Linked DNA regions of Homo sapiens: region 1 is linked to region 2. A link means that fine-mapping ties the variant in region 2 to the expression of a gene that starts in the linked region. Tissue or cell type: aorta. Region 2 holds a variant in brackets; the other region holds the start of a gene. All regions are shown on one strand. Distances are between the middles of the regions.

Region 1 (2,765 bases), 200 kb after region 2:
CAAGGGGTAATACTCTGTTGTGAGGCACCACTTAGCTGTATGGAACTAACTGTCCCCATCAAATCTTACCTAACCAGAACACATCCTCAGAACAAAATTCTCCAAGTGTAACGTATTCAGGGCTAATTCATTAATTCTCCATTGTAGCCCACTGGACTCAATGCTCTGTGGTCACTAAATCAAAAGAGCATACATACTCAGGAAAAGAGAATTAAGAACTTTGCCTTTTTTAACTTCGAATGGATATAGAACATCAGAGATATTTATTTTTCCCTATTAAGTATTACCACCTTCTATTTACTGGGCAAAAATGCTTGTTTCCTGCACCTTTAAATCTAATTTGTGTTTTCCCCCCTACAAGAAAGATCATGAAGGTGGATTAGTACAGAGTTGTATGGACTTTTTCAGTATCTTTAATGCATTTGCTTCTGGAAAGAGAAGCGCTGCAGACACACGGTGGCAATTCCTGCTCAGGTGTAGTGCCATTCTTTTGTGTGACTCACAGCTAGAGAGAGAGCTGACATTCAATATATGTTTAACAATACTTTCCCACTACTGATTCCACTCAGGAGACTCACATTTTTATGCCTTTTCTAAAAACAAGGACACAAAAAAAGTCACTGTCTGAGGAGGCTCATTCTTTGTTCATCTTCACCTGACTGGCCACCTAACTACACAAAGCTTTTAAACTAATGAGGAGAATCCTTTGTTCTCTCTGGTTCCATTTAAAGGGAAAGTGGGTCGAAGGGCTTCCCCAGGGAGAGAGAAAGAAAAGCCCAGGAGCCAAACACAAGGGAGTAAGAGATTTCACTCCCACTACTATTCCCACCCTCCCAAAGAAGTTAATTAATTCTGTTTTAGGAATGGTTAAAAGGGGTGGGGGAGCACCAGGTAGCCCATTCTCTGAGACCAAAATCTCCTTCTCGAGTGTGGTTCGCACCAGCCTCTTGTCTCTGACACCACGGGGTGTGGGTGGGGGGCGTGGGGGGAGGGCAGGAGTACTGAGAACCTCTCTCCAGCCACGGACCACAGAGCCAGTACTGCATGCATTTAGGCTCCCCCAAAGGTGCGTCCCAGCCCAAGTCCCCAAGTTGGGTATTTAAATCTAAAAAGCACAATTAGCGCCATTCAAAGCTGCAAGTTACAGTACCTTCAGAAGTCTGACAGATGGAAGAAAGGCTGCGTGGCACAGCTTCCGGATGGTCCAGTTTAGGGGTCGAGGAGCATCAGCCTGATTCATGACCCCTTCCAAATTCCACCAGGAAAACAAGAAACTGAAAACCTGAGCAATGCCTAGAAAATAAACGGTCCCCCACGGCTCTGGCATCCCATGGTCATCTCCACACCTGCAAATTCCATTAGGGCAGAGGCTTCCTGGAACTTGGAAGACTAGTCAAGTAGCCTTGCCTGAGCCCCTGAACCTTCTTAAAACAGCCACCTCCCCTCTCTCTGCAGCCGTGCTCATGCATACCAAATGTGGCTGAATGGAGGCACACTGCCTGCTGCTTCGGGGAGGGGATGCACGATTTTGAAGAAGAGGGACAGCCTGCACAAAACAGCCTGTGGTCGGAGTCAAAGCAGCCTGCTCCAGAATGCGCGCTCCCTCTCCCGCTCTCCTCCCAGTAAACGCAGGTCAGGCGTTGGGGGGGAACCGGGGCCATTGCTTTGCTAGCTTGGTTTGGGGGGGAGCCAGGAGGATCGCAAAAGGGAACAAAAATGAAGCCAGAACGGGAAACTTGCACTTTCTTGCACAAAGCATCTTTGAGGGACTGAGAACTGGTACGGGGGGAGGGGTGAGGACACAGGGAGAGAAGGGGTGCCTCCGAATGATGAGATAAATGCTTCCCTTTTGATTTATGTGACATAATAAAGTGAGGCTATCATCAAATACATCTATAGTAAAAGAGATCTGTGTCGTGTTCTGAGGTTTTTATTAACCGTGATTGACAGTCTTCATCCTGATAATCGGTTGCATAGATGACAGACACTGAGACAGAAGCAAACTCAAACACACTGGGTTGTTCCTTTCATACAAAGCAGTTTAAACTCATGGGCATTTGGCTCACCTTTTAGAGATGGCAGTTTTTAAATGGGGGTTATCTCCTGGAAAGCCACTTGATACCGCTTCTCTGCAACACAAGTTTAACCCATAAAGTGCCACATGGGATGCTGTCTATAAAGAATGGATTTTCCTCAAGTGGGGTGTCCACCCCCATCATTTTCTAAGGAGGCTGTATGAAATAGTTGCTGAGTTGGAATGTATAGTCTTTAGGACTCCTGTGGTGAGAGAGAGAATTAAAGGACAGTTTTTCAATTTGAAGGTAGAAATTGGATAATTTCACATAGTAAGTTGGGACGGTGAGATGAGAAGGGAGTTCCTGACACAACCCCCCTTCGGCTCCCATGTACCCCCAGGCATCGGACCTCAGTGGGAGCAGTTGACCTGACAACTCCTATGGGGAGAATCCCCACATCCTTGGAGCATCGCCATCTTATTTATTTTTTCCTCTGTGACCATGCTGATTTTCCATTTCTAATTAACTTGAAGAGATTGGTAAATCCCAGCTCCATGACTATTATGCAGTCAGAGCTGAACTGGGAGTGGTGCAAGCAGATGTGATACACTGCTGTAATTCAGAACCGGGACAACACAGGCCCACCCCAGCATGAAATCAATACCTGACACACTGCGCTACAACACCATTTCACTCACAATGGTCTTGTGTCAAAAATTTAAGAAAGATATTGCAGAAAACTAGTCCACG
Region 2 (2,765 bases):
AGAAAAAGCCATTGATCTTTCCGACTTTGGTTTTTCCAAATGGAGTGGACTATTGGGCCTATTATAAAAGATAGCGCCTATCCAGGGGCAATGAAGTGGAACCCATAAATTACCTGGTTTATTAATTTTTGTAAACATTTAGATGAACTAGTTAATAAAAACAAAAAAAGCCTAAAAAACCTGAAAGCAAATGTCGCTTAAAATAACTGTGTGTTCATCTTCATGGCGTTTTACACTTTTTAATACATGTTCATGTTCACGTTTTATACTTTTTAATACCTGTTCACAAAACTGCAATTTTGCAGGTTTTGTCCTATTTTGGGATGATGGGAGGATATATAGAGAGGATAAAATCCGTCAAGATTACAACAGAACACTAGATAGGATTACAAAATTTGCTTTGTAGCCTCTCCCATGGGGGTTCTTAAAATGTATTTAATTTTTTTAATAACAAATGAATTTATGTTAATTGTAGAAAAATACAAAAATAGAGAAATTACAAAGAAGAAAAAAAGTAACTATTTTACCAAGAATTGGATATAAAGTAATGCCATTAATACAAGGAGAAAACTGCCTAGATTCCTAAGGGTCATGTGTCAGAAAATCTTTGTATTTCCTATGAATTTTTCTTGCCAGTTGTCAAATGTGTTTCCTAAGAACTTGCTTTAGGCAAGACCCTGGAGAGCCAGTGAGTTACTCTGAAAGCTGTCCATTTGATTCCTATTAACTAGCTTATTCATCCAGCTTGGCCGAGTAATACTGGCAACACAAATAACACACACACACACACACACTCTCTCTCTCTCTCTCTCTCTCTCTATATATATATATATACACACACACACACATATATATATATACATATATATACACACACACATATATACATACACACACACATATATACATATATACACACATATATACATATATATATACACACACACACATATATATATACACACAATCTATCTATCTATTTATCTATCTATATATATATATCTTTGTGCTGTTTTCCTTTAGAACATTGGTTCTCAACTGAGGGCAATTTTGCTGTCTCCCGTCTAGGACATTTGGCAATGTCTGCAGACATTTTTGGTTGTTCCTTGTGGGTGAAATGGTGCTGCTGACATTTGGCTAGAGGCCAGAGATGCTGCTAAACATCATCTAATGCACAGAAAAGCCCCCACATACCCAACAAAGACTTATATGGCCCCAAATAGCAACAAGGCTGATATAATACCAATATTTATTTCCTTCCTTGATTCCTCTTTCCTCCCAAAATTATAGTCACACTGGTCATCTACTTCCATATACTATTTATTTTTTACTTACAATTATATTGTGAATATTTCTTCATATCATTATTCTTCAAAGCATGAATTTAATGCTGTACAACAGTTTATCATGTGACTTATTTAATACTCCTTACTGATGA[C/T]AATCAGTTCCATTTCCAGTATTTCAACATCATTAAATAATGTTGGTATGAACATTCTTGACCATAAATCTATTTTCATTTCTCTAATGATTTTCTTTGGATGGATTCCTAGAAGTACAATGACTGAGTCAAACCAAATGAATGTTTTTAAAGCTCTTCGTCTTGTTGCCAAATTGCTTTCACGATTAACAGTCTCTCTGGCAGCATATTAGAATACTCGTCAGGCCAGCTCGGTTTCTACCATATTTTTGCGCTAAGCTAAAATTTGACATGTTAACACTAATACGTAAGCCTTATAGTCCTGATATGATTTGTGAATGTTAAGTACTTTAATAACCATTCTCTAGCTGACTAATACAAGGTAGAAAGTTCAGGTGCTATACTCACCTTACCCCCAACAACCATCTAAGAACTCTTATTTTCAAGAAGTAATTTCTACAAGGTTACACAGATTTCAAGATGAAGGAGAAAGAAAAGGAGAAGGAGAAGATGATGATCGCTGAACCTAAGCCAGAAGCCAGCTTTCATTCTGCGCTCTTTCCACTGAACCGTACACAATTGCCATTTCATAACGTGAATTGCATGAACATGGATATGCACGGACTCACTTGAGTCAGTCAAGAGTTTTGGCTTTCACATTCTCCAGTACTTGGCTAACATGTATAGCCCTACCTGCCCCTTTCCAGCAGATGGTGCTGTTTTTCCAACATTTAAATGCTACACAGCAAATGATAACTTTTGATTGATTTGAGCCAGGTTGCTTAAGGGCGTTCAACGAAGTCTACTTTGCACATTGGTATTATTAAAATTGCTCAAACATAAAACCAATCTTTGCTCAGTATTGATGGAAACAATGTGTGTTCGAGAGTACTGATAACAAATAAATAATGAATCACCACCCTACCGCAATGATGTATTACACTAGACTTTTTTCCTGGAGACATAGAAGTAAATGTTTTAGGGAGGCTGTGGGAGTCAGAGGTGGGTCTTAAACAAGGTAGATATAAAAGATTATGAGTCATCATACAAATTCTGTGTTGCTTCTACAGTAAATATCATGGAACAAATGTTGGTAGAATATGGAAAAAAATATATATATATATCCTCCTGTCTATTCACAGAATATGGAATATATATATATATCTCCTCCTGTCTATTCACAGCTCCAATGCAGCTTTCTTACTTCCCACCAATTAAGTTTCTAATAACACCTATAGGCAATCTTTATATATATATGCTGGGGTATCAGCAGTGACTCATTTTCCAAAATAATTTGATATTAATATAGAAGAGGAAACACAATATCTCCTTTCAGCCAGCGCGGGAG

Evidence for each region. PIP is the estimated chance that this variant, and not a neighbour inherited with it, causes the effect.
Region 1: it holds the start of TRPM3, and the variant in region 2 is fine-mapped to the expression of TRPM3 in aorta (GTEx, PIP 0.93).

What each region holds. Positions count from the first base shown.
Region 1 is chr9:71,120,028-71,122,792 of GRCh38, forward strand. It overlaps TRPM3 (transient receptor potential cation channel subfamily M member 3), which reads right to left and starts at 1,594. Exons shown (of 26, transcript NM_001366145.2): 1 at 1,151-1,594. The coding sequence starts at 1,327. RefSeq lists an enhancer at 402-1,239.
Region 2 is chr9:70,923,011-70,925,775 of GRCh38, forward strand. The region is part of intron 1 of TRPM3 (transient receptor potential cation channel subfamily M member 3); the gene reads right to left. Among named protein-coding and RNA genes, the nearest start is that of MIR204, 110 kb to the left of the region's middle. The variant C/T (reference allele first, on the strand shown) is at 1,439.